Linked DNA regions of Homo sapiens: region 1 is linked to region 2. The links come from fine-mapping of genetic effects on gene expression. A gene starts in region 2. The other region holds a variant in brackets. All regions are shown on one strand. Distances are between the middles of the regions.

Region 1 (14,357 bases), 27 kb before region 2:
GGAGTGTGCAGAGTGAGGATGTGAAGCTCACTCACCTAGCACTCTGGGTCAGGCCCCTCCTGAATATTCATTCTCTTTTTGTCTTTTTTTTTTTTTTTTTTTTTTTGAGACAGGGTCTCACTCTGTCACCCAGGCTGGAGTGCAGTGGCACGATCTCAGCTCACTGCATCCTCCACCTCCTGGGTTCAAACAATTCTCCTGTCTCAGCCTCCCAAGTAGCTGGGATTACAGGGGTCCACCACCACGCCCGGCTAATTTTTGTATTTTTAATAGAGATGGGGCTTCACCATGTTGGCCAGGCTGGTCTCGAACTCCTGGCCTCAAGTGATTCACCCGCCTCGGCCTCCAAAAGGGCTGGGATTACAGGCATGAGACACTGCGCCCGGCCTGAATATTCATTCTTAAATCCTCACAACCTTGTGAAATAGGTGTTATCACTATCTCCGTTTTACAGAGAGGGAAACTGAGGCACAGAGCAGTTAAGGAACATTCCCAAGGTGACACAGCTTGCAAGCCGTAGAGCTGGGATTTGAATCCAAGTCTGTGATTTTGGAGCCTGTGTGTTATTTCCCTGGTTGTTCAAGATTCCTTCTTCCCAGGAACCTAGGACTTAGCCAATCTCTCCTCCAGGGAAAACATGAGGACATTAAAACATTTTATTGTTCTTGAAAAAAAAAAAAACCTTAGGAAATTTTAATAGAATGACTAATGGACAACTGTCTTTCCCCCAAGTAGCTGAGACCTTAAGAAGCTGAGAGGAAGAAAAGATTATCCTAGCCGCCTCTGAGATGCTGAGCTCCTGGGAGTGGGGTCTAAGTCAGGGTCAAGTTTGTATCCTGGGTACTGAAAACAGAGCCTGGCACAGAGTCTGGAACCATCTGATGGATAATGAGTAAATTAGGGAGGGAGGAGCTCTGGAGGAGACAGGAAGATGAGGAACTGGGCTAGAAGTTTCTAGCCCAGAAAGGGGCAAGCAGGAGTGCTGACCACATGCAGGAGGGCAGCGGGGATCCTCCCTGCCACGCCCTGTCCATGCTTCAGCTCTCCATGTTTGCGTCACATCACCAGGAAGGGCCCAGGGATGCAGGAGCAAGGGTTGATGCTTGGCATTGAGAACACATCTCAGGGACTGGAGGCTTGGGTTGATTCAAGGGAGAGGCTGCAAAATCTCCTTCCTTAGACAAGAGGCTGGGTCAAATTATTGATCTCTGGGTTTCAGTATTACTCAGGGCCGCCCACTGAGTAATACCTAGTGCCCCCAAGGGGCACTGAGAGAAGTAAAAAGAAGCAGGAAGAAGGAAGAGGAGAAAACAAGGGAGGAAGCGGGAGTGGCCACGTGGCACCTGCAATCTCATCAGAGCTGCCCTTGGCCCCACCCGTCCTGTCTAGGAGAATTGGCACACACTCCCTGGAGTCTGGGCACTGACCATCAGCAATGATGCCAGCCACCGGGCCTCCACAGCTAGGGCGGGAGCAGGGCCCTGGTGCCCAATGATGCTTTTAGTTGGCAGATGGTGGGAGGTTCTGAGGGTCCGGAAGAGGGGCTGAGTCATCACTCAGGGGGCACTTGGTGGGGTGGGGGATAGTGACTTTTGCCCAACCCCCAGGTGTCAACTGGCTGCCTGTCAGACAATGCTTTTAGGTGACCAGAAGGCAAGGATTTCCCAGTCCCTGGAAACCAGATGCCCATCCTCCATGCAAACAAGTGAGGTGGAGTGTCCGTGCCAGTGCCCACACCTGCCCGGAGGCAGCTGCTCAGGTAGGCTGACCTGGGTTGTAATTGACAGTCCACCTTACTCCCTGTGTGGCCATGCAGGTCACCTAACCCTAGAGCCTCTGTGGCCCTCCCTGGGATTAGGATGACAGTCCCTCTCGCAGCAACACAGGAGAGCAGGTGCTTCCCTTCTCCCTTCCCACCACACCTGCTGCTGCTCTACCACCACCTGGGGGATCCTTCCTCTCCCTGCCCCATCACCCTCCTTATAGGGGCTGACATCTCCTATTTGACCCTCTGAGCCTTTAAAAACAGAGGCCAGTGGCTTCCCATCTCAGAATAAAATCCAGAACCCGTACCACAGCCCGCAAGACCCCGCACGAGTGAGCGGTTCTCAACCCTGGATACATGTTAGGGTCATCTGAATCAATCTGAGCTGGGGCCGGATGGCAGTGGATCTTAAGCACTTCCCAGGTGGATCTAATGGGCAGAGCCACTGCCCCACATGATACATCCCTCCTGCCATGCTGCCTGGCTCACTGTGCCCTGGCCTCACTGCCTCTCACTCATTCTCAAGTACGTTCACCTCAGGGCCTTTGTTGGAATACTCTGTCCCTGGCTGTCCACCTGGCCCCCTTACACAACATAGCTCACTTTTTTTTTTTTTTTTTTTTTTTTTGGTACAGGGTCTCACTCCATTGCCCAGGCTGGATGGTAGTGGCATGATCACTGCTCACTGCGGCTCGACCTGGGTTCAAGTGATCCTCCTACCTCAGCCTCCTGAGTAGCTGAGACTACAGGCATGAGCCGTCACACCCAGCTAATTTTTTTTTAAATAGAGACGGGGTCTCGCTATGTTGCCCAGGCTGATCTCAAACCCTTGGGCTCAAGCGATCTGCCTGCCTTGGCATCCCAAAGTGCCAGAATTACAGGTGTGAGCCACCACGCCCAGCCCATAGCTCATTTTTGATGGAGAGGTCCCTCCCTGACCAGGCAGTTCCCCTCCCTATGCCATCACATTCTTCCCCCTCAAACCTGCCCCTGCCTTATTTTGTCTCATCACACTTATGACCCCTTGATATGCCTGTTGGTTTGGATAACGTCTTATACCCCCCACTGGAACATAAGCTCTATGAGAGTAGGGCTTGGCCATCTTGTTCACGGCTGTATCCTCAGTGCCTAGCACAGCACCGGGTGCACAGTGGGTTCTTGAGAAAACCTGTTGTAATCAAGGCCATCTCTGCCGGCAGGTCTGAGCTTCTGGAAGGTAGGGGTGGAATGTCATGCATCTTGGTGTCCCTGGCATCTAGCACAGGGCCAGGCATGGAGGAGGCTGTGGCTAATTCATGGTGCTGATGATTTGCTCTGGAGATAGAGGGGCTCACTGGGGTGCTGTAGAGTGTCACGGCCAAAAGCAAGGGTCTGAGCAGTGATAGAGGTGGGGAGATGGCCCAAAGGAGGCTGGGATGCTTCAAGAAGGGAGGAAAGGAGCAGGCCTGCAACAGTGTCTGACACTTGGCTGACCCAGGGGGCCTAGCAGGGTAGAGGAGTGGTGGCCTATTAGACATCAGCCCTGACCACTGGACCCAGAGAGTAGGGGCAGGGTGAATGGGAGCCCACAGGAGGGTGGGGCAGGGGAGAGCGAGCTCCAGGTCCCACCGGGGTGCAAGATGATGTGGGCAGTGCCAAGCACAGGAGCTGATATCACCCCCACCCTGTAGAGTTCAGCAAATAGGACATTTTGTCTGAAGCTGCAGGGCTGCTACATGCCTCAAATGCCCCTGCCAAGTGGCCATGGTGGAGGGGACGGCATCTGCACCCTGGATATTCCTGACCTGTCCCAGAAGCAGGCAGGTGACAAGTGAGGCCTGAGGGGGAATGACTTGTAAAAGGCTGCTTTGGGCCGGGGATTCCAGCAGAATGGGGCAGGCTCCTGTTTTTGAGAGTCACCGGCATAAGGAAATGATTGCAGGGGTGCCCAGGAAACCGAGGGCTCCAGGACACTGGGTTGGGTTGTAGCTCAGCCTGGTCCCTGGGAGCCCAGTGGCAGCTCATGGCCAAAATCACTCAGCCCCTCTTCACACCCGAACCCAGCTTCCTTCTCCGGAGCCATCACTTTTTGAGCACCAATCATATCCAAGGCCTGGTGTAGGCCTGTCCAGCTGAGTTCCACACCCCCAGGCTGGCCGGCACTCCCAGCCCTGGCAGCTTTCTAGGGCAGAAGCTCAGCATGCCTGATGTCAGAAGCCCCTAGGTGTGTGCCTCCTCAGCAGGGCCACAGCTGCAGCAGCAAGAACGGCTGCCCCCAGCGACTCTGGGCCACCTCTGCCTGCCACAAGAGTTGCCTTGCAAAGTGCTCCTCAAGGCAGCATCTGCCCATATCCTTCCTTGTGTGTTTTCCTCCCTCCAGGGCCTCTGCACTATCTCCACCTCACCCTCCCCACGCCTCCCACTCCTTAAAGACCACAGGGCTGGGGGGCAGACACCTGGGATTCTAATTTGGTATGTGACCCCAGGCTACCCCTGGGAGGCTCCTGTCCTCATCTGCAAAGTGGGGAGAAAGGGGGGTTTCTATGAGGATTCAGTGAGACAATGCCTGGGCACAGGGCTGCCTGGCACCCAGCAGGGAACTTAATAAATGTCTGGTTTCCAATTCCCACCAATGCATTTCCCAGCCCTTCTCCTCCCCTCAAGCACTAATTGTCTGAGTTACGACCCTACTTTGGTGTCTGGCTGCCTACAAGCAAAGTGAGGAGGTCTCCTTCGGTAGAACTGGTGCTGAGCTGAGAATGGAGCCCTGGCCCGCCCCTTACTTCCAGAGCCTTGGGAGACATCATCAACCTCAGCATCAGCTTCCTCCTCTGGAAAGCAGCCACCCTCTTAAGTAACTGCAAACCATGCCGGCAAACTGCAAAGTGCTTAAGGCCAGGCATGAGGACAGGTCAGGAGGCAGGGTTTCGGGCCTGGCATTCTCAGAGTGGTCTCGGGAAGAACAAACCTGGACACCGAACTGGACAACAGCAGGACTCTGAGCACTTTGGGAGCTGTGTATGATGTGTTGCGGGGGTGGGTTGTGTCCAGATCAAAGGTGGGGAGGCGGTCTAGGCAGCAGCAGGAGGTGTATTCGAGGTCTGCAGCAATTCTTGCAGAGCCTGAATTACAGTGAGGCCCACACCCTCGTCCTGCTGCCCTGGCCTTGGCCATCTCCCATGTCAACCTCATCTTGATCTTGCCTACCTCCCTCCCCAGAAGCCAGGGGGCCATTTGGCATCAGGAACACAGGGATTAGCTGCACGGCCAGACCCCAGACCCCCGCCCAGGGGTCCCTCTTTGCTCTCCTGGCCAGCCCCACCCCACAGGCACCAACTTGGGCCAATGCCAGGCCACAGGTCAGACTCCCAGGCCTGGGACTCCTCTGCCCACCCACAACAACCACTGATGCTCCTCAGCAAGAGCCAACTTCTGGCTCTGAACGCAGCAGCACCCAGGATACAGCAAGGTGAATGCTAGGCACTCGTCCCACAGCCTGGGGTGTAGGGGAGGTCAGAGATACACACAAATCAAACTCTCTCCTCACTATATATATATATATATATATATATATATACACACACACACACACACACACACACACACACACATACACACAAGCACACCCCACCCACACTCATTAGGCCTGGAGGGGGGACTTCAGTTCTCCATCTTTGGCATCAATCTATCAAAGTCAGCTTTTCTGTACGAGACTGCTCGCTCCTTTCTGTACATGAATTAAATATATTATCTGTCTCTGCACTGAGTCACACGACGTTCACAGTACCGTGGGGAGGAGTGGAGGGTGGGGGCCTGAGGTGGGCAGGGCAGGGGGCCTGGGTAGAAAGGCGAGGCTGGCCTCCCCTTGGCCTGTGCCATTCAGGATCAGCCCAGTGTTGAGGAGACCTGGGGGATACAGAGGGGAGCCTTCTTCAGGGGCCCCGGCCACCCAGGCTTCCAGCCCCCGGAGGCAAGCCTCTCAGCATCAGAGCCTGCTCCTGTTCCACGTTCCTCTCCCTCAGATGGTGGCATCTACACCTCTCCCTGTCGTGGCCGCCCTCTGGGGTGGCAGGGGCTGGGGGAAGCTGGTATTGGGATCAGGTGGACAGAGCCACAAGGGCTGGGAAGGAAGGATGGGGAGGCTGTGCGAGCCTTCGGGAGCTGAGGTCAGCCTGGCACCAGTGTCAGGGTGACTCTGCATATCTGGGTGCCGTCCCCAGGACCCTGACCAGGCCTGGCTAATCAGAGCCCTGGGATGATAAGGTAAGCAGGAGCCACCTCGGGAAGGGGTGGACAGGCAGGAGCCGGTCACAGCTCCAAGGGCAGTGAGTACGGTACCACCTGCCAATTTAAGGCAACTCCATTCAGACTGATGAGCTGGGCGGGGGCTGGCTGAGGTGGCAGGCGTGCAACTGGCGGTCCCAGGCCACCTCTGGACACAGCTGGGCATCCAAGCATGCCAGCAAAGCGTATGCCGGCACTGCTCAGCCATGGTTCAAGCCAGAGGGTGTCGGGGAATGAGGGTAGGGTAGGGCTGATGGAAAGAGTGGGGACTACTATTCCTTCTGTTGCTGTGGGACACCTGCCAGGTGGGGTAGGCTTTGGCACACATGTGGGTACCTAGGATTCCAGGGTCCCAGAGAACATGCCATGTCTCTTCTTGCTCTCAGAGGGGAAAAAGATGAAACGTGTGTGGGCTCCAAGGGGCCAGAAAGGGGGACTACCAAACTGGCACTAGGCAGGTCCTGGGGGAGGAGGGTAGAGCCTGTATCCAGGGCAGAGTGCCCATCCTGGCGCCTTGATTCTGTCATCCGTGTGCATCCCACGCAGGTGCCCAAACACCAGGGTGGGAGAGGGTACGAGGACCGCCCCCCCCTCATGTCCTCTCAGGGAAGCAGCTTATGCCAGCCCCAACGTGGGTAAAGGAGGGGTTGGTATGCAGGTGAGGGCTACTGGGGAGGCACACGGGAAGCACAAAGAAGAAACAGCCGTGGCCAGAAGGGCTGCCAAGCGGTCTTCCAGGCTGGCTGTCAGCCCTCGTTCTTCAGTCCTCCGAGGGCCACACAGGCTCCATCCTACCCGAATTTGTGCTCCATGTGATCTCTTGTCCCTTGGCCACAGCAAGGTGGGCGTGGCTCAGAAGATGCTCTGCCGCCTGTTCTTCCCTCGTCCTGGAGAATGGAGAAGAGGTGGGGCTGCAGGGAGGAGGCTGGGCTGACGGGTACCCCAGGTCAGCAGGGACAGTCGCTGTCCCCCAGAGCTGCTCTGACAGAGCAAGCAAGGGCATGCAAACAGGAGCCGGTCTGACCTGGTGTCAAATCCCATCTCTGCTACTTACTAGCTGCATGAACTTGTGACTTAACCTCCCAGAGCCTCAGTTTCATTGACTATGAAATGGGGAATATTAATAGTACTAGCTTCAAGGGGTATTTTAAGGATTAAAGAAGACGATGCATGGAAAGCATTTGTCAATGTCCAAGGCCATTGACTGTTCTAGGAACAAAGTACCGTTCTCCCAGGATGGAATCTGATTAGAGAGCTCAGGGTTTGCAGAGAGAATGCACCAGAGACAGCATGCCTCTTTGCCAGGGCTACTGTCAAATGCAATGTCCTGTCTGGGGTGGAGGGTTGAGGAGGGAAGAGCTGGACGAGGAAGTCTAGGCAGGAGAAACCAACCCCTTCTCTGCTCCCCAAAGAGTCCAAAGGGAAGCCAGTGGTGGGGGGACCATGGGAGTCCCCACTGGGGAGGGGTCGCCTGCTCTGGCTTCCACTAACAAGGGGAGGGGTCCAGGAGAGCACAAGCCCCTACCTGGCTGCTGGAAGGCCAAGCCTCGGTAGCCTGGGTCCTTCTGGAGCTGGATCTCCTTCAGGGAGAAGATGGAGGCAGCTGGGGGAGAGAAGTGCATAGTCTGGAGAGGGCTGCGTGGAGCTGGCCTCCAGTAAGGACTGGCCCAGAAGGACCAACTGAGCCCTCGAGGCAGCGTCTCATTTCCACTGTTTGCCCCCTCAATTTGGAATGAGAACCCCAGCAGGGGAGGCAAGGTGCCCGGGGCTGCTCTGCTGGGGCTGGGGCCTCTGGCCTCTTTGTTCTGGTTCTTCTGCCCACACTCACCAACCCCTTTCCTTGGTTCTGGGTGGCCCTGCTCCCGGACCCCCAGTACTCACTGTCTTCAAGCTGGTGCACACGCTCTCCCAGAGACCGGAAGTAGGAGTGACTCAGGGCAGCCTCTGCTGACATGCGACTCTTGGATTCATACTGAAAGGCACAGGGTGGGGCTATTGGGCCCGGCTGGGGGGCTGCAAACCCTCTGGGCAGCAGGACTCCAGTGCTGGTTAGAGCACCAAGGTGGGTGAGGCTTGAGGCTAACAGGAGAAGCCCCAGGTCAGCCTCCAGCCCCTACCACAAACCCAACCTCAGGCCATCTCAAGACTCAGGGGAAGGCTCCTCGGTCTCCAGCCACCAGGAAAAACCAGAAATGAAACTTCAGGAGAGTGACCTTCTCTTGGGATAGAAATACAGATGCAAACCAACCATGATCAGATGGAGAACATCCGTAACAGGAAGCGTAGTGCCGATAACAACCCTTCATCGTGTGCCTTACAAGACAGGCACCACACTAAGTGTGTCCCGTCATCTCAATGTATCCTCACGGCCATCTTATAAAATAGGTATTAATCCCACTTTGCAGCTGAGGAAACTGAGGCATGGAGGAGCTCTGTAACTTGCCCAGAGCTACACAGCTAAGTAACGGGTTTGGGCTCGCAGTGCACAGACTCCAGAGGATGTGTATGGAGGCCACCCCTTGGCCTTGGGGGTGGAGAGTACAGGGGAGATGTTTCAAAGACGTGTAAGCACACGAGCCACAGAAGTTGGGGCGTAGGCCCGGCATGGGGCACAGGGACCTGGCTCTTTGGCTGCCTCTCCCTGGGCCCCGCCGGGAGGACACTCACCAGGAGCAGGCTGCTCAGGAGGTGGATGCCATCCGTATCCAACCTGCAAGGAGAAGGCGCGGACACAGGCTGTGCCTGATTGGGGATGGGAGAGCCAGGGCCGCAGCAGGAGGGGCGGCGGGCGCAGGGGCTACCTGGGCGCGTGGTTGATGAGCGGCTGCGGGAGGTAGCAGGGGAAGCTGTAGGTGCGGAACTCAGAGAAGGCGGTCACGCCGGGCCACGTCTCTTCTGTGGGGGTCCCTGGGGAGACGAGAGAGGGTGGGGAGGGCCTGCGTGAGGCCCAGGGCCAAGGCCGACTTGAAAGGGATGCAATGTATGAGGTGGGAGCAAAGATGGCCGAGGCCACAGGGGGTCCCCGCCCGGGAGAGAGGCGGCCGAGCCGCTCCTCCCCGTCCCGCTCCGCGCCTGGGCTGGAGGAGTTCCGGCGCCCCCTGGTGGTGAGAGGGACGGAGCAGCGGGAGACTGACCGAGGAGGCGAAAGATGAGGTGCAGCTCCTCCTTGACTGTGGAGCCCGGGAAGAGGGGCCTCCCTGTGGCCATCTCGTAGTGGATGCAGCCCACGCCCCTGCGAGGAGCAAGGGGTAGGGTCGGCATCAGGCAGGGGCGGCCGCCCTTCCTAGGGCTGCTCCACCAGGGCACCAATGACGACCTGCCACAGGCGGCTGCAGGGATCGTGGCTCTGGCGGCGGAGGGGTGGCCCAGGGCAGTGGAGGCTCCTAGAACTGCCCAGCCCCCACTACAGCCCCTCTCTGGGGGGCTTCCCTGGGCTCGGGAAAGCTGCGACTTTCACTCTGTGAGGAAAGTCCCCTTTCACTCTGTGAGGTTTGGGTCTGTGCAGCCAGCGCCCATGTGGCAATTCTCTCAGCAGTGTTGTCTCAAACTCTCTCCACTGTGTGCCCCACTGGAAGAGAAGTACATAAATCCATT[C/G]TCCTGGGGAACCTTGGGGCGGAGTCACAGCAGCCATTCATAACCACCGGCGGCTTGGCTTGCAATTTGGGCTGATTTTTCATTTTACACCAAATCATACACTTGTTCATTTTAACATAAAAATAGTACTTCTCTTTCAAAATTTTCACTGGGACTGATGCTTGGGGAAGATTCATCGTATTTACTATAGGGGCCCTCCTGGACCCTCTGGGTCTCTGGTAACCCCCCACAGGCCTCTGGGGGAGGATTTCAAATGCACAGGCTTGGGGGTCTATTTAAGCCAGGGAAACCCTAACCTATTATATTTCAGACCTAATTTTTTAACATCCATTTCAGCAGGATGTCACAAGGCTTTTAGGCAAAGGAAGTTAGGCAGTTCTTCCCCGAGGCCCTTGGGGAAGCAAAGGAGAGTCTGGAGGTGTGGCCAGGCCTGTCCTCCCCTCCTCGGTCCCCACAGTGCTCACTCACCACATATCAATGGGGGTGGAGTACTCTGTGGATCCCAGCAGCACATCGGGGGGCCTGTACCACAGGGTCACCACCTCATTGGAGTAAGTCTTTGTGGGCACTGACTTGGCCCTGGCCAGTCCTGGGGGCAGACATGTCACTGGACCTCTGTCCACAGGTGCTGTGGGGTTGACTGCTATGCCCTCCCCCACTGCACCCACACCCTGAGGCACCCCAGTAGCGTCAGACCCCCACCCTAGCCCCAGCCTCACCAAAGTCGGCCAGCTTCAGCTCCCCCCTCTCGTTGATGAGCAGGTTCTGGGGCTTCAGGTCCCGGTGCAGGATCTTGCGGTGGTGACAGTAGGCGAGGCCCCGGAGCAGCTGGAACATGAAAATCTGGGGGAGGGGGAAGAGAAATGTGGGGTGGAAGGTGGCCCTGAGCCTCTGCTCCAAGGCTGGGACCAGGATGGGGGCAGGGGCTTGGCAGTGAGGTCAGCACAAGCCCCTCATTCTCCTGCACACCCTGCAGCCCCCATCCTGGACCCCACCCACACCAGGGAATCCCATCCAGAGGGGAGGACAGCAGGGGTGCAGAGGACGCAGTGAGTGTGGGGGAGGCCAGCGAAGTCTCAGTCAGGAGCACGGGGGTCAGGATGCCCGCCTATGTGGAGACATATGTGCTTGATCCCTTTTTTTTTTTTTTTTCTTTTAGAGTCAGGGTTTTACTCTGTCACCCAGGCTGGAGTGCAGTGGTGTGATCATGGCTCACTGCAGCCTCAACCTCCCGGGCTCAAGTGGCCCTCCTGCCTCAGCCTCTCAAGCAGCTGGGACTATGGGTGCACGCTACTGTGCCCGGCTAATTTTTCAATTTTTAGTAGAGATGAGGTCTTGCCATGTTGCCCAGGCTGGTCTCAAACTCCTGGGCTCAAGCCATCTTCCTGCCTTGGCCTCCCAGTGCTGGGATTACAGGCGTGGGCCACCATGCCCAGCCTTGATTCTTTAACAAACACCAGGAGAGGTCATTCATAACCCCGAGCTTCCCCAGAAGCCTCCCTGCATTTTGGCAGGTAGCTCACACTCCCATTTGACAGACTGGGAAACTGATGTTCAGAGTTGAGAGTGGGTTTTATACCAACAGCTAGACAGTGGCAGACAGTGTGTGTCTGTTCTTGGGGTAAAGCGCTCAACCCAGTTCCTGGACTCGTTGATGGCATTGCCCTCTCCCTCTTTCCTACGTGGGAAGGTCTGAGCCACCTCAGCAGCCGGATCCCTGGTGGTGAGAGTGGGTCCCCACACTGGGCTTCTGGACAGGTGGCTGCCAAGATGGGGGGACCCTGCCCCCGAGGCCTCACCTTGACGTTGTGCATGCTCATGAGGTTCCCACAGTGGTCCAGATACTGCTTCAGGTCACTGTCCTGGAACACAGAGCGTGGCTCAGTCCTGCCCCACGCTGACCCCTGGCCAGAAGCCCAGACACAGGCTGAGGAGAGGAAGCCCCTCCCTGGGAAGGGCCCACGCCCACTAGTGGGACAGGTCCCTGGCTCGAGCCACCCGTAAGCCTGAGCTCTTGGCCCACTCCTGCACGGGAGCATCTGAAAATCTGATTCCAGAACAAGGCCTGGGTCGCCCTCATCCCACTACTCCCACTCCCTCAGCTTCCCACTCCCCTACCCACACCCCGTTTCCACCACAAGAGGGAGAGGCGGCCAGCCCCAGCCGGACTCTCACCAGGTACTCAAACACCAGGGTGAGGGACCGATCTGTGTGGATGAGGTCATGCAGGGTCACAATATTGGCGTGCTTCAGGTTCTTCAGCAGAGACACTGTGAGGAGACAGATCCACCTGGGTCCCTAGGACCCCATGTGTCCCCATACCCTCTTTTCTTGGGGTCAGCGCCAGGAGTCCCATTCCAGCAATGATCCTCTACCCCCAGCTCCCACAAGGGTGCAGGCTGGTGAACCCCTCCTCCTGAAGCCCCCAGGGGAGCGTGGGAGCCTAGGATGCTGTACCCTCTCGGATGGCAGTGCAGGGCGCTCCCTCCTCGTGCTCCAGCCGGATCTCTTTCAGGGCCACAAGGTTCTCCGTCAGTTTGCTGCGCCCTTTGAAGACTGTGGCATAGGTGCCCTGGGATGGAGGGCCACAGCGGCCCCAGGCGCATTCAGGTGCTGCTGGCCTCTGTCCAGTGCCTCCCCATTTGTGCCTCTGCCTGGGCTACGACTGGGGCCTGAGTGCCCTTCCTCCCTTTACTGACATGCTGTTTCCTCCAAAGCCTACTTCCTCCAGGAAGCATCCCTAATGACTCCCCAGTCGGAGTGAATCCGTCCTTCCTCTAAGCCCCAGCACGCCGCGTGCCCGTCTATGATAACACCAGGTTTTTTCTTCCTTATACGATGCTGATGTTTACACAGAGGTCACCTCTTTGGGCTCCTGGAGGGAAAGGGCTGTGTGTTCCCTCTCTCTATAAACCTTCACCCACCCCAGGCCTCTGCACAGTGACAACAAAAATAGCTAAGTGACACAGCACTTCCTATGTGCCAGGCATTGTCTGTGTGCCGTACATAAGCTGATTACAGTAACCTGCCCAATCCTCACAATAACCCTATGTGATAGGACAATTACTGTCTCATTGGACAGAGGAAGAAACTGAGGCACACAGAGAGGTCATGTAACTTGCCAAAGGTCACAGAGCTAGTAAATGGTGGAGCTAGGTTTTGAACCCAGGCAAGAAGGACTTGCAGAAAAAAAAAAGACTGGATTCTGCCCAGGGCCATGGCTACTCTATCCTCACGCCCTCCTTCAGGATCTGAGCTCACTTCAATCCCTGCCAAAGCCTGGGCCAGAGCGCACAGCCAAGACTGTGCACCTCTATGGGGCAGGGGCCAGGAGAGGGCCAACCAGAGAGGGCCGACCAGAGAGGGCCGACTAGGGAGGTCTGCCCCTCCTCCAAGCCATCCTGCCTGGCTATTCGGAGAAGACCAAACCCAGCGTCTTACCTCTCCCAGTTTGTCCAGTTTCACGTATGTTTCCAGTTTCCCAAAGCCAATGTCTGACTGAGAGGGAGAGACATAGAATGCCGTGAGCTTGAAGCCCTTAGCAGCTCCACAGACATGACGCCTCCCCCAACTCCAGCCTCTGGGAGGGAAGGGATGAGACTCCATGGTGGAAGGGGCTCCTTTTCCCTTTATCCCTGTGATAAAGGACAGAGCTCGTGAAAGTGTGAGTTTCTTCCTCCCAGGACAGCCAAGAGTGTAGAGCCCAGAGCTGTGGCACCTGGGATTGTTGCACATCTTGACTACCTGTGTCTCCGACTGAGACCACGAGCTCCTCCAGAGTGAGTGCTGCCTTTTTTCCCATTGTACCTTGAGTGTCCAGTTCAGAATCCACCTCTCTGACTGTGTCTCTCATCAGCGCACTTCTAGCTCAGGTGTATCCAACCCTTAACAAGACGGATTCCTGGACCCCCTAGCCGGAGAGGCTGATTCTATAGGTGTCTGGAGGTAGAGTCTGTGTTTTGTAAGATGTCCCAAACAGCTCTGATAGGCAGTTAGGACTGGAAGGCACATGCCAGCTGGCCTATTGATCTTAACCATGTGGAGACCGTGGGACCCACTGTGGGCTTAGAGTCCCATTCCAGCCCAAGTGAGACCCATCTAGGAAATGGATGTTGATGTAGGAGGACGAGCTAGTTGAATGCACTCAAGCCAGCAGGTGGCACCAGAGGCCCAGGAATCTTCCTCGAAATCCCATCTAGGCCTCAGCTGGGACTGATATGCCCATGCTGGGGAGGGCATATCACCCCACCTTGTGTCCTCTGACCCTCTTGGGACTCACCAGGGAGGCCCGGCGGGACATGCGGCTGAGCGGCTTGGGCAGATCTGGGCTCTCCATCTGTAGCTTCTGTAGGAATTCCTGGGGCAGGCGGATATCCATGGGCAGAGAGAGCCTCTTGCTGACGTCCTGTGGTGACAGGGATGAGATGGGGACACCACTGTTGGTTTCAGGGTAGCTAGGGCTGTGGGGCTCCAGACTTTCACTCTGGACCTAGCGTTCCCTGCAGAACAACCATTCAGAGCCCAATCACAGGCTGTGACCCCAGGCTCACAGCTGCTCCCAGTGTGTGCTCAAGACATACACGTGAACACCCGGGGCTGCTGTGTGACCTTAGCACAGCCAGGTCACTCTCTGCCTCTCTGGGCCACAGTATCACCATCTGTGCAACATCAGTCTCATGCCCTTACAGGCACCGATTCTGTAAGTATATTTTTTCATATACTTGGGCATATGTGT
Region 2 (14,864 bases):
GGGCCATACAAAAACTGTCGGGACTTGGCCAAGAGCCATGGTTTGCCAACCCCTAGCCTTGAGCATCCAGTGCCTGTGTAGTGTTTGAATCCAGCATCCATTTCTTTGCGAGGTAGTTGTTCTCCTCCTAATTGACAGGGCTGAGGCATTCCAGGATTTCCTTGCCCATCTCAGCATGGCAGGGACCAGGTACCCAGCCATCAGCTGGGGCAAGCCCCTGGCTCTACAGTTTGGAGGAACAGGAGGCTGAGCCCCTCTTGGGACCCCAGCACACAGCTCACCTTGTTAGCAGGACAGGCAAAAGTCGGAGCCTCAGACCAGCAGCCTCAGAGGGGCCTTTGGAAATCCCCTGGTCTGCACCCTCATGTTTCAGGCAAAGAAGGCAAGACTCAGAAAGGTGAGCGATCTGCCCGAGGCCACTGAGGGTGACAGGGCAGAGCTGGGACCACACTTTGGGCTTCTGACTTTGTGCAGGGTTGGAAGGGACTGCATGGGCCTGCGTAGAGATGGCACTCCCTTTATTGGTCACCACAGCCAAGAAAGTCACAGCATCCCCAAGGGCCACCTTCCTTGGGAAGGAGCCATGCCAGGTTTGGCACCCACACAGAACATGGCACCCAGCCCAGCCACGGCAGGGGATGCTGCCAGCTGGGCTCCACGGCAGGATCAGGGAGGGGCTCTGTGACCCCTTTCCTGGGCTCATCCCATGTTGCAGGCAGAGTTTGGGAGCCAGTGCTGCTTTGTCAAGAGTGATGCCCTCTAGCATAACACCTACCGCCCACCTGCTTCCAGGCAGTGGGTCCTGCCAGGATGTGGGAAGGACAGCCCTGTCACCTCCTGGGCTGGTCACCCCGCAGCCCAGGGTGCTGGGTGGCTGGGGCCAGAGAAGAGAAGAAGGTCTGGTTCCTGAGGAGACTCCCCAGGCAGAAAAGGGCAGGCTTCTTTAGGGAAGCAAGGTGTGAGGGCAGTAATCATTCTGGAGCTCTGAATTTCCCTCGATAATGATAAGATGGGGAACAGTGTTCAGAGTGAGGGAGGGTAGAAATTTTTTTTTTTTTTTTGAGACAAAGTCTTGCTCTGTCACCCAGTCTGGAGTGCAGTGGTACAATCCTGGCTCACTGCAACCTCTGCCTCCCTTGTTCAAGCGATTCTCGTGCCTCAGCCTCTGGAGTAGCTGGGATTACAGGTGCCTGCCACCATGCCTGGCTAATTTTTGTATTTTTAGTAGAGATGGGGTTTCGCCATGTTGGCCAGGCTGGTCTTGAACTCCTGACCTCAGGTGATCCACCTACCTCGGCCTCCCAAAGTTCTGGGATTACAGGTGTGAGCCTCTGTGCCTGGCCAGAAACATTTTAAGAATAGAGTTCTCTTCCCAATTTGGGGGCTGATCCCTGATGTTTGCAGGGACCCTGATTTCAGAAAAAAATATCAAGTGGGGCCAAAGGCACTGAGAACTACCAAATGTAGCCCATTAACTCTGCCACCACCCCTTGATAATGACATCAGGTAAAGCAAAGAGCTACTAGGTGGACATTATCTCACTGGAGTCCTCGCAATCACATGAGATAATAGTATTATCCTCCTATTTTATAAATGAGGAAACTGAAACCTGGGTGAGCAAATTACTTAACCTAAGGCAACCAGTTACTGAGTGGAAGAGGCAGAATCTGAACTGACCCCAAAGTCCATAAATTGCCTCCACCCATGGTGGACAGGAGACATACACTCAACATATAAATAATGATGAGTGCACCAGCCAGCCATTATTGGGTCATCTTGTCTATCCCGACTCCACCATTTCTAGGGAAGACTTTTATTTAATGGTGGGGGTAGGGAGGCTCAGAGGGTGGGACCATTATCAAGAGCTCCAGGAAAGAGGATCTCATCATAGTCCTTTCAAAAGTTCTGGCCCATGTCTCCCAGAGCAAGGTGTCCAGTCTCTTCAGGGTTACTCATGCTGTCAGGGAGCTTTGCTTCAAGACCCGTTTTTTGTTTTGTTTTGTTTTGTTTCTCGCCCAGGCTGGAGTGCAGTGGTGCGACCTCGGCTCACTGCAACCTCCACCTCCTGGGTTCAAGCGATCCTCCTACCTCAGCCTCCCGAGTAGCTGGGATTACAGGCACACGCCACCATGCCTAGCTAATTTTTGTATTTTTAGGAGAAACAGGGTTTCATCATGTTGGCCAGGCTGGTCTCAAACTCCTGGCCTCAAGTGATCCACCCGCCTTGGCCTTCCAAAGTGCTGGGATTACAGGCATGAGCCACCACACCCGGCCTAAGACCCTTTTCAATTTTTTTTTTGACAAGTTCTTGTTCTGTTGCCCAGGCTGGAGTGCAGTGATGCAATCATGGATCACTGCAGCCTCAACCTCCTAGGCTCAAGCGATCCTCCCCTCTCAGCCTCCCGAGTAGCTGGGACTACAGGCGCGTGCCACCACACCTGGCTAATTTTTGTATTTTTTTAGAGATGGGGTCTTGCCATGTTGCCCAGTCTGGTTTCGACCTCCTGGGCTCAAGCAATCCGCCCACCTCCCTTTTCAGTTTAAAACCAAACCTCACACTTGCCTCACTACCCCTCCTCCTCTGCAGATGTAGCTGTGGAGATTCTAGGAGCAGATGGGCTCTCTTTCAGACAGGAGGTCTGGCGGAGATGCGCCCACGGCTTTTCCTCTTCCAGACTTGCTGCTGAACCACTGGCCAGCTCCAGCCAGGCCCAGCTACCAGCTCTGTAGTGATCCTGGATCCCAGACCCTTGGCCTGAGCTGTTGTGAGCCCAGCCTGTGTGTGCATGTGCATGCAGCTGTGTGTGTGTAAGCAGCTGTGGGAGCCAGGACAAGATTAACCTTGGTCTGCTCCCACCCCCTGGATGTGGGAAAGTGCCCACTCAGCAGGGAATGCCTGGAGGGCAAAGGTGAAAAGTCCAGGGAAGGGGACGTAAGGGGTTATGGTGGGACACAGAGCCGAGGAAGAGAAATGTGACTTATTGCCAAAGGTGGGCTAATCAGGTGGGCCTGGAACCAGGCCAGCCACTCACCCTGAACAACAGAGCAGAACAGGGACTGCAATTAATTAAGTACCAGGGGAGGGTCCTCCTACCTCAGGGAAAGAAGGCGCTGCCAGAGGGCCCTCAGAGCAAGAGACTGCTGCCTCTCCAGCTCCCAGTGCCTGCCTCATTCATAACTGCCAGAAGGTAGGGCCCCCACAGCACAGATTCCTGGCCCCTCCTGGAAGATTTCCATCCAACCCATTCCCCTACCACCACCACCATTCTCTTACACAGAGCCCTCCTCCCTAACCTGGAAGAGCAGTAAAGATTCTGTCTAACTAAGGGCTTGGCCTGATGGGGCTGGGAAAATCTACCTTGGTCTCTAGACCAGCCCTGGTGCAATCACCAGGAAATTCCCTTTCCAAACAAGCACCACCAACCACTATAGCTACCAGTTATTTAGTCTCTGCTACATGCCAGGCACTGTGCATTATTTTTTTTTTTTTTTTTTTTTTTTTTTTTTGAGACGGAGTCTCGCTCTGTCGCCCAGGCTGGAGTACAGCGGTGCAATCTCGGCTCACTACAACCTCCGCCTCCCGGGTTCACGCCATTCTCCTGCCTCAGCCTCCCGAGTAGCTACAGGCACCTGCCACCACGCCTGACTAATTTTGTGCTTTTTTTTTTTTTTCAGTAGAGATGGGGTTTCACCATGTTAGCCAGGATGGTCTCGATCTCCTGACCTCGTGATCCGTCCACCTCGGCCTCCCAAAGTGCTGGGATTACAGGCGTGAGCCACCGCACCCAGCCTAAATCTTATAACAGCCCTCTATTATGATCCTCATTTTACAGATGAGGGAACGGATGCTGGGAGAAATTCACGAGTGTGCTAGTGAGGGGAAGGTCACATAGCTACTATATGCTGGAGCTGGATTCCACCAAGGCCAGAAGTTTGCCCTCCCCTTTAGTTCTCAAGCTCAGTTAGAGAAGAACAGAAGGAATCAGAGGACAGGTAGATGGAGATGCTGGACAAAAGTCCCAACAGGGTGATCCCAGAAAGTAGAGGCTTGGTTAGGGTAGGAACCGGGAAGAGTCAAGCCGGGCTCTGCCCTACAGTGTAGGACGCATTCCCGAGTGCGGGACGGCCCAAGTAGGCAGAGGACAGAGTCCGAGTCTGTAGAGGAAGCAAATGCACCCTGAAAGGCAGCTCCATGTCCTCTAGACCTGAGCGGGGGTTTGCAGGGCTGGCAACCTGATCCCACGAGATCTCAGACCAAGAACCTATTTGCTCCTCAGATCTGGTGCCCTCTCTCCTGTGCCCCATGGAGAAGCCTGGCTCTGCCTAGTGCAGGACAGACAGATGGGAGCCTCAATATTTGGAGCATCACCCCCATTCTTTCTTCTCCTGAGGACTGACGCAGACCAGAGAACTCCAGAGTGGGCCGGAACCTCCCCACAATGGGGCAGGGGTTAACAGCAGGGGCTTGGGGTCAGACGGAAGTGGGCTGGATCCCACCTCTGTGTGACCTTGGAAAAGTTGGTCTCTCAGAGACTCAGTTTCTTCACCTGTAAAATGGGGATGATAATAATACCTACTTCATAAAGTTGTGACGCACTGCTTGGCGCACAGTAGATATTCAACAAATGGTGGCCACTAAGGCTTGTCTACTCTGCCTCTGGCACCCCCGATAAGTTTGGGAAGAACTTCTTCTGGCACGCGTGGAGAGCTTCTTCCATTCTCCTGGCAGGGTATGGGGAGAGTCCTGGGGACCCAGTGGGGAGAGTCCTGGGAACCCAATGGTCAGGTACACCCCAGATTAAGGGTGGGGGAGGGGTCAGCCCCACAGCCTCCTCAGCTGCACAAGAGGTGGCTGGGAAAGGGTAACCCGAGATAGCAGCTTTGCTGTGGCAAGGTGACCCTCTCTCTGGAACGCCTTCAGGATGCAAACCCGGACCTGGAGCCAGTGTCGCCCTGTACTCCACCGACCCTCAGCACCCTCAGCACCGTTTTCCCAGGCCCCTCCCAAGGCCAGGCTAAAGGCAGGGGATCTCTGAGGACGTGCCAGTCCACCAGGCGCTCCAGGCATCCTCTCAGGCCCGTGTCCAGGAATGTGCTGCATGCCCATGCCCGGGTGGGGAATGCCACGCGAACATGCCGAAGCTCACTGGGTGCTGACACAGGAGGGGCAAGCCGGTGGTGTTAGTGAGTCACAGGGCCCAGGCTACAGCTGGGGAACTGCCGAGGGCTGGGCTAGGGGTGGGGAAGAAGGGGAGACAGTAGCAGATAGCGCGGAAGAGGTTCCAGGGCCTCTCACTCCCACAGTGTCAATCCTCCCACCCCGACTGCCGGGAGGTGCCCAGAGAGAATGAAGAGAGGCAGGGCTGGTGCCTAGGAGGGTGCTGACCCTGCAGCACAGAAAACCCCTCACTGTTTCTGCAGCCCAACTCCCACCCAGCACAAGGTCTGCAGACACCTTCAGGGAATCCCCGCCCCCCACAGGGCGAAAACAGAGGCCTCCAGTCCAGACCCGATTTTGGATTTCAGATTCCTGATGGTGTCCCTCAACTACAGCAGAATCCTCAAGGCACATCTCCTTAGCCCAACAGGTCACCGCCCACTCCCCCCGGCCCCACCCAGCCTCCTTTCCCTCTGCTGCATTAACCCTCTGTCGCCTGTTGATGAGGGGTGGAGGGGGGCACTGCCCCTTTGGTCTTCCGGGGTGGAAAGAGAGAAGCAGCAGCATTCCCCAGACCCCTGCCTCCCCCAGAACTGGGACCTGCAGGGCTTCACGTGTCCTTCCACGTTCTTCCCAGGGCTCCGGCCTCCCACCCCCTGCCTGCCGCTCTGGAAAGTTCACCAGAGCCCAGGAAGCCCTTCAAGGCAGCGATGTGGCCCCACACTCTCGGGTCCTTTGGTCCCTGGAGACTCCTGACCCTTGCCCTTCCCAGAATGAAGGGAGCTTAGAAAGCGCCTGGTTCCGGACTGGGTGGAAAACTTTGCTTTGTAGGGTTCAGACGGGAGCCCAGGGGCCAAAGTGATCCCAGATGGAGACTCCCTAAGGGGGCGCGGGGTCTGAGATTGCAAAATAACCCTCCCTCTCAAGCACCTGGAACTTACGAGTGGCCTTTCGAGGGCACCCCCCACCCCTCAACACACAACACAGTATCACACAGATCACGCCTCGTGATCTCTGCTCTCCCCTCGCCGCTCCGGTATTTCCCTCCAACCTCTCGCCTCAGGGCAAAAGCAAAACTGCGCCTTTAAGAGCCGTTCCGCTTACCTTTGCTCCTTATACCCGGCGCCGCGGTGCCCGCTCCTCCGACCTCCCCCTTCCTCCCAGGCGCACCGCCCGCGGGACTCACAGCGCGTGTCCTGGGGGCCGCGGTGCGCCCGCTCCCTCCCGGGCACGGGGCAGCTTCCCCTGCTCCGGAAAGGTGAGCAGTTCCCCAGAGAAGCTGCAACCTGAGCTGGCCGAGGAGGAGGTAGAAGGGGAGGGGAAGGGAGGGAGTGGAGGAAGGTGGGGAAGAGGAGGGAGGAGGAGGAGGAGGAGGAGGAGGAAGGAAAATGCCCGGCCCCCGCCAGAGTTTTTCACATGTACAAGTTGACTCCGCCCCCGGCCCTCCCGCCCTGCCCACAGCCGCTACCAATCCCCAGGGCTCCCTCTGCCCGGGTGCCCACCCCTTTCTCCCACTCTGGGAACCAGGGTCCAAGTGCCTCTTCCTGTTTCGTTTCTAAAACCGGCCCTGAGAGCCTTGGCTAGGGGATGAGGCCTTCTGGACTGGATCACCCCAGGACACCAAGGCGCCAGGGGTACACTGAGAGTGCCTGCCTGTCTCTAAAAGCGGTGCTCCTACCTCTCCTAGGTACCTCCCTGTACCTGGCGCCCTAGGAACGAATGTGCATGGACAGATTTTGGTGGTCATTTTCTTGACAATAGTAGCCCTCGGGCTCCCCTTCTACCCTATCCAGTGGGACTTGTCACTTACCTTTCCGGACAAAGTTCCCACCTCTCCAGGACCTGAATGAAGCCCTTGTTACCAGCCATCATTCACATTTCCCTCCCCGAAGGATAATTCAACTTGTCCTTTTGGAATTAAACTCCACAGGATATTTGAGAATCATCCAAGAAGGGTTACAGAATGGCTAGTTCAGCTAGTGGCACTCTCATTTTACAGAAGGGGAAACTGAGGCCCAGCAAAGCAATTGAACTGGCCTAAAGTGCCACAAGAGTTCATGGCGAGCCATGATTAGAACTCAGGCCAATGGCCATTGCACCCACATCATCTGACTTCAAGGATCAAAAAAAAAAACAAAACAAAAATCTGGGGATGGGGGTGAAGGGCACAGTGCCCCACCGCCAGGCCCCTCTCATCTCTGCTTCCTCCTGAGGGCTGTGAGGAGAGGAGGTGTGCCTTGGCTCTATGGCACCTCATCAAGGCAGTCTGTGTCCCCTGCCCTACCAGAGGGCTTGGCTGCTGCAGTCTGGGGTCTCCCACAGGGAAAGTCTCCTTAGGAGGGGGTGCTCCACAGTGTACATGTGCTTCTACCTGAACCCTTTCCCTGGGGACTGTGAGTTGTTGAGAATAGAACAGTTTCCTTCTGGAAGACATGGGCCTGAGGTCCCACTGTCAGCTGGAGACAGGAGAATGAAGGAAGACACTGGGCCCATGCATGAAAGTGACCTGTGGGTAGTTGACATCTCACAGAGGGCCTCCCAACTCTTTTTTTTTTTTTTACCTCGCTTTCTCTGCCAAGGCATGCAGATTTCCTGGGCACAGCACTTCCTAAAAATGAAACTGCCAAGTGTTGTCGGGGTGCATGGATCCAGAGCCTTTAGGTGTGCAGCAACCTCCTGGCTCTGTAGTCCAGTGGATGGTGAGAAGCCTGGGGAGCAGGAGGCCATAAAGAGGTTTGGAAGGGGCAGGGAGGGAAAGGGAGAAGGACTATGGCCAAGGAACTGTTTACTGGCGGATTAGAGAGAGTGGGGCCAAAGGGTAGAATTTCAAGGAACTAGGGGGGTGAAGTCAAGAGGTCTCCACAAACACTTTCTCAACATCTCTTATGTGCCAAATGATAGCCAGGGCTCTGGGCACATAAGATGAGTATAACCCAGTCCCTGCCTTCAAGAAGCTCTTGGTGTAATGCGGCAGGGAAGCAAACAGTTAGGATGCTATAGGAGGAGGCTTAGTGTTACGGATGCCTGGGAGGAGCTATTCTGCTTGAGGTGAGGGTTACAGGATGAGGGGACAAGAGAGAGGAGGAAGGATTTTCCCTGTTTTTTCCAGGAGGGGTAATCCCTTGTGCAGAGTGCAGGGGTGACAGAATATGGACCCACAGTTCCATGAGGTCAGAACTTAAAGTCTGGGGTGGAGGTGACACTGTAGAGGCAGGCAGGTGCTGGGTCCTGAAGACCCCCAACGTGGAGGCTGATCCTAGTGGAAAATGAGAATGAGCTTAGACCACACAGCGGCAGCAGGGAGGAGAGGAGGGAACTGATTTGAGAGATAGGTAGGAGACAGGGTCATGGAGCCTTGTGACTATTGGATTCTAGAAGATAAGGGAGCCAACAGTGTCAAGATTAGAAGCACTGATGTGATAGGCTGAGTGGGACCTTGGAGCTTCTTAAGTGAGCCTTGATTCCCAGCACCTCCTTAGATTGCTCTGTGAACTTGGGCAAGCGAACTAAGCTTTCTGAGGCCATCTGTAGAACAAAGTTGCTAAAATCAATCTTGTATGGTTGTTGTACATATTAGGGTAATGTATGCTAAGGGCCTGGCATAGGACTTGGCTCATAATGGAGAACTCAATAGATAGTAAATATAATTACCATCATTCATGCATTCAACAAACATTTATTGAACACCTGCTATGTGACAAGGACTATACTGGATCCTTGCATTGGATAGATGATTTTAAGTCTCAGTTCCTATTCTCATGTAGTTCACTGTTCAGGTGGAGAAAGATATGCAGAGGCAGTCACCTACCAAGGCAATATGGGCTGAGCAGAGGAAGAAGCCCTTAACTCTGCCCAAGAGAATTTGGGACAGCTCCACAGAGGAGAGATGACAGCTGAAATGATGTAGGGCCAGCCACCTGCTCAGAGCCTGTCACATCACCCCCTGCCCCACCACCACCACATGGGATTGCTTCAGAATCTCTGAAAGCTTCAGTTTTGAAGCATCGTCTTGGTTCTCAGGGTTGAAGGAAGAGGATGAACTGCAGGTGGGCATCTATATGGAGCCCAGAGAATGGCACAACAAGCTTTGGCCACCCCAGGAAAGGGCAAGTGCAGATGGGAGGTGGGAGGGGGGAACCAGATAAGAGTGACCCTGGGCAGGGCTTACTAGCTGGATAGGGAGTCCATGATACCCAGTCATACACATCAGTGGCCTGTGTATGTGTGCTCTTTGGGTCAGCCTAATTTTTCTGCTTCTCATCTGTACCATTTCAAAAATTCCCTCTGAACCCCTTGGTGTCCCCTGCCCTCCGATGCCAACTTTCTTTCTGTGCATCTTGCAATAAGCCAAACACAGTAGAAGCAGCACTACCTAGGACTTCCACTAAGGAGGGGCTCCTTCCCTGCTGCCTTACCAAGCAATACTTTGAGCTTTAAAGCCATGTAAACTGTGTGACCTTGGGCAGTTACTGACATATCTGACTTCCTTTCCTGTCCATAACATGGAGATGGTAATAGTCCCTCTCTCATGGGGCTGTTGTGAGGTTTCAATAGGATGTAAACTTGGCACCCAATCAATGCTGTTTCTCTTTTCTGCAGCCCATTAACTCCCTCCTTGCAGAGGGACAGACAACAGACCCTCAGCTGGGGGTTTCCCTGGCACCCCAGCCCCTGGGGCCCATCCCCTGTGGGTCCTGCAGCCCCCTTCCCCTCTGCTAGTCTAATGGATCTGTGGCATCCCCGGGAGGCCCTGGTCACCCTAGCCATGTAGCAGTGTAATGCTGGCAGGCCTGAGCAGCATGACAATGGTGGCCCCAGCAGCAGCTCAGCCCACTGCCCACTCTGCTCCTGTCTCCTCCTCGCTGCCAGTGACATGCCACTGCTCTGCAGATAGGACAGGCGTCCCTGGGTGCCTGAGGGCTGAGCAGGGAAGCTGGAAACAGCTCTCCCTCGCAGACTGTGTGGGCAGTGCATTTGAATAGCATCTGAAAAACCAAAGTTCAAGCCCGCCCCACTTTCCCCTGGGAGGCACAGCATCCAGACAGGGAGAGTTCAGCCAACAGAGAATCTCTTTTCTGCACATTGTCAGGGGCTCCCTTCCCCTCTGGCCCTATATCCGAGCAGGCACAGTCTCTGAAAGCACTGCAGGGACATTTGGGAGGCCGGAGACTTGACTCCGCCCCTAAGGTGCAGAAATCACTTTGTTTCTCTGGGCCTCTGTTTTCCTCTATAGCAAAAGGGGAATAGTGTGAATACCTATCTTTCAGGATGGGAGAACTAAATGCAAAGGTGACTGTGAAAGTGCTTTGCACACTGTAGAACGACCTGCATGTGTATGAGATCATTAGTGTTTGTCCAGAGGGCCCTTTTTAGGGTTCCAGGAATCAAGTAAAGACATGAGAAATGAGAAGCTAAGTGAGAACAGAGAAACTCACCTCAACAGCCTGCCCTTGGCAGGCAGGAGGGAGATTGGCAGCAGAGACCTGAAGATGGACTGACCCATTATGGCCTAGCTAGTTAGAGGTCTGTGAGTCATTGGGACAGCAGGACTTGGCTAGACTGAGCCAATTCTTACTCCTCCTCTGGCTAAACCTAGGCCATTGTTTTCCAGTGATTTATGAGAAGTGGGGATGATTAGGAGAAAAATATCATTTACCTGTAGCAGTGTGATTCCAGCAGAGAGCCTGGGACTTTCTGCTTTATCACTTCACCAAGTGTCATATCCTCCCTTCGCTATTTGTGGTGAAAGTACAGGCATGTGTGCATTTATGCATGTGTTTACACATGTGCATGCACATGCACGCACACACACACACCATTCTAGACTTCAGATGAGGCAACAGCTGCATCCCCAGAGGGTTCTAGGACAGGGTGGACCCATAAATAGAGTCAGCCAATCACAGACCAGTTGACCCTAGCAACTATCAAACCAATTAGAACCCCACCACTACATCCAGCGGTGCCTTCCAAACTTACACACACACACACACACACACACACCCCACCCCCTTCAGGTTGATGCATTGCCATGACAACAGAATCACCACACAAAGCTGGTGTAAATGGGAAAGTGGTCCTTAGGAACAAGACTAGAAGAGTCTTTGGGGTGAGGCTGCAGGCCACACTGGCTGGGGTGGGCCACTGAGAGGACCCGTATGCAGGGTGGGAGAGGAGAGACAGCTGGTTTACCTGGGCTTTCTAAGCCCATTCTTTACCCCTGGGTCTCTGTTTGCTCACCTAGAGAATGGGGTCAAAGACTCCTACTTGGATTATAGTGAAATGTAATGAAATTATTTCTCAACTAATAGATAGGGATAGGAACCGTAGATTTTCTTTTCAGGAAACCTTAAGAATTTTGAGACTTTTGGACCAAGAGAGTTGATTGATCCCCAGGAAGACCTAAAACCAAACCCTAAAACCCAGCTCATGAGTTCATTGGACAGTTGGATCTTAGTTCAGTTTGAAAGTAGTTACTCAATATCTGCCATGGGCCAAGCACAGGTGCTGATTTCAGCTGTAGCCAGGTAGCCCTTGAGGAGCCAGTTGAACATCTTGGTGAAGACTTTTAGAAATGCTCCAGAGGCCTGTTGGATGGGCCTGGAGACAAGTGCTCTGGAGGTGGCTGACCGGGAAAGACCTTGCTCAGGGCCAAGGAAGAAGGCCATGGTTTGAACCCGCAGGCCCCACTGGCCCACTGGCCTTTAGCTTCCAGGCCCCACACCCCTCCTTCAGACAGATGCCAGAGAGGCCTTAACCTTAGCCACTGGCCAATCTGCCAGTGGCTCCTCCTCTGCCCAGTTGCTTCCAGTAGCTCCCCAACAGGAGGCCTTTGAGTCCCCAACCCCTCTTTCAGAATCTGATGAAATCTGAGGAATCAAAACACATATGCACAACATTTTCTGTTCATTTTCATGAGCTATGGGCCTCCTTGTGCTCATTCACAGACTCCCTTATGGCATATGGATCCCCTGCCTCCCTCGTCAGCTCATCCTGATTTTCTCCCTCTCTTGTTGTGTCCAGCCACATCAAACTATGAGTACTTCTCTTGTACACACCACTATGTTTCACTGCTTCATGCCTTGGCACATGTTCCCATCTATAGGAGAGGTTCCCTCCTTCACCACTTACCTAGTAAACTCCTATTCATTCTTCAAAATCCAGCTCAAGAGTCACTGCCTCCTTGACACACACAGGTTCAGTGTTGTCTACACAGGCTTGACCACTCCCCAGTCGGAAGCCTGTCTGTTCGACATACTTCTCTCACTGTGTGCCTCCCAGTGCTTGGGGGCTCCATGTCTTCCTCCTTTACTGGGCTGAGAGCTTCCCGTGGCCAGAGACTACATCTTTAGCCTTTGTATGCCCAGGACTAGTATATATCAGGTGCTCACCGGGGTCTAGGACAGGGGTCCCCAACTCCTGGCTGCCTGTTAGGAACTGGGCCACACAGCAGGAGGTGAGCAGCAGGCAAGCAAGCAAAGCTTCATCTGTATTTACAGCCGCTCCCAGTCACTCACATTCCCACCTGAGCTCTGCCTTCTATCATATCAGTGGCAGCATTAGATTCTCATAGGAGCACGAAGCCTGTTGTGAACTGCACATGTGAGGGATCTACGTTGCATGCTCCTTATGAGAATCTAATGCCTGATGATCTGTCACTGTCTCCCATCACCCCCAGATGGGACCATCTAGTTACGGGAAAACAAGCTCAGGGCTCCCATTGATTCTACATGATGGTGAGTTGTATAATTATTTCATTGTATATTACAAGGTAATAATAATAGAAATAGAGTGCACACTAAATGTAATGCGCTTTAATCATCCTGAAACCATCTCCCTGCCTGGTCGGTGAAAAAAACCGTTTTCCATGAAACTGGTCCCTGGCGCCAAAAAGGTTAGGCGCCACTGGTCTACAGAACCGACACAGCAGAACTGAATTGGCAGAGGAAGCAAAGCTGATGAAGGAAGAAGAGAACAAGCAGACCAGAAGTTAGGACAGGAGCAAGGGGAAGAGAGGTGTTGGAAAGGAAAGGGGAGTCAGGAGGTGCCCACAGAGCAAGACTGAAAGACATCATTGAATTTGGCAACTAGGAAGCCATTGGTAGGGTGGCCATAGGCCCAGTTTGCCTGGGATTCTCCCAGTTCTAGCATTGAAAGTCCTGGGCAGACAGAGATGGTTGGTAGCCCTAGATTGGTGACTTTAACAAGGGCAATTCTGGAGATGGGAGTAGGGCAGAGGCCTGAATGGTGGGCTGAGGGATGAATGGAAGGCGGGAGAGGGAGACTGGGAGAATTGGTGGCTGCTGAGCTGTTTGGCTGAGCTGAAAGGAGGCAGGAGCTAAGGACCGTGCCGGTCTCCTGGCCCTTCCCTCCTGCCCACTGCCAACCCCCTCCCTGGAGAGAAAGCAAACACAGCTGCCGTCAGGAACACTGTGTACACCCTTAATGAATTCTTCTTGAAAGGCTCCAAGCCCACCACCTGGGTTGCCCAACTAGTCCCGCACCACCCCAATCCCCACTGGACCAGCGGTTCTCCGTTGTCTGACTTCCTGCAGTAAGTATTCAGGGGTTTTATCCAGTTGGCACAATGGATCCTGCTTGGACTGGGGATGGCTCTTCTCTTCTTTTGAACTTATTTACAAGTCTCATTTGTCTTTGCATATTAATAGATTGTCTGACTAATTCGATTCTGAACTTTTGTCTTGCTCTGTTGCTCAGGCTGGAGTGCAGTGGCGTGATCTCAGCTCGCTGCAACCTCTGTCTCCTGGGTTCAAGCAATTCTTGTGTCTTGGCCTCCCAAGTAGCTGGGATTATAGGCACCCACCACCACACCCAGCTAATTTTTGTATTTTTAGTAGAGATGGGGTTTCACCATGTTGCCCAAGCTGGTCTTGAACTTCTGACCTCAGGTGATCCACCTGCCTTGGCCTCCCAAAGTGCTAGGATTACAGGCATGAGCACCTTGCCGCCAGACCTCTGAACTTCTTGAAGGCAGGGATCATGCCCATCCTCACTGCCTCCCTTCTTTCCCTCTCTTTCCCCTTTCCTTCCTTCAGTAAACACTAATTAAGTGGTGTTTGAATTCAGTAGTTGTGGTGACTGCCATACTTCCTGCCCTCAGGCACCTCACAGTCTGGATTCCAGCCTCCTAAATAGGGGAGTTTTATATCCCTGAGCAGCAGAAGAGGGTCCTTGCAGGGCTTTAGTGAGTCTGAAAACCCATAACATTATATGCTAACATTGTGAGTGTGTATGTGTGTGTTATGTGAGATAGAGAAGCAGAGACTGTATGTTTCTAAAGAGAGAATCTCAGCTGGGTGCAGTGGCTTATGCCTGTAATACCAGCACTTTGGGAGGCAGAGGCAGGTGGATCGCTTGAGATCAGGAGTTCGAGACCAGCCTGGCCAACATGGTGACACCCTATCTCTACAAAAAAATGCAAAAATTAGCCCAGCATAGTGGTGCATGCCTGTAGTCCCAGGTACTCAGGAGGCTGAGTTGGGAGAATCACTTGAAGCTGGGAGGCGGAGGTTGCAGTGAGCTGAGATCGTGCCTCTGCACTCCAGCCTGGGGGACAAAGCAAGACCCTGTCGAGAGAGAGAGAGAGAGAGAGAGAGAGAGAGAGAGAGAGAGAAAGAGAGAGAGAGAGAGAGAGAGAATCTCTACAAATTAACATGTTCAAGTGGAATCAATCTGCCATATTCAAGTC

Direction of the effects. Positions count from the first base shown, and alleles are read on the strand shown. Sizes are in standard deviations (SD) of each study's normalised expression.
For the expression in cerebral cortex of the gene that starts at base 6,472 in region 2, G is the low allele of the variant in region 1 and C is the other (small effect, 0.22 SD a copy in GTEx).

What was found. PIP is the estimated chance that this variant, and not a neighbour inherited with it, causes the effect.
Region 1: its variant is fine-mapped to the expression of CDK18 in cerebral cortex (GTEx, PIP 0.95).

Annotation. Positions count from the first base shown.
Region 1 is chr1:205,523,902-205,538,258 of GRCh38, reverse strand. It overlaps CDK18 (cyclin dependent kinase 18), which reads right to left. Exons shown (of 16, transcript NM_212502.3): 4 at 13,902-14,027; 5 at 13,064-13,120; 6 at 12,080-12,194; 7 at 11,798-11,892; 8 at 11,422-11,484; 9 at 10,342-10,465; 10 at 10,091-10,211; 11 at 9,163-9,260; 12 at 8,830-8,935; 13 at 8,696-8,738; 14 at 7,910-8,000; 15 at 7,554-7,631; 16 at 5,469-6,915. The coding sequence ends at 6,881. Among named protein-coding and RNA genes, the nearest start is that of CDK18, 26 kb to the right of the region's middle. RefSeq lists an enhancer at 1,321-1,822 and a silencer at 9,007-9,126. The variant C/G (reference allele first, on the strand shown) is at 9,623.
Region 2 is chr1:205,496,277-205,511,140 of GRCh38, reverse strand. It overlaps CDK18 (cyclin dependent kinase 18), which reads right to left and starts at 6,472. Exons shown (of 16, transcript NM_212502.3): 1 at 6,345-6,472. RefSeq lists enhancers at 491-1,038, 3,895-4,548.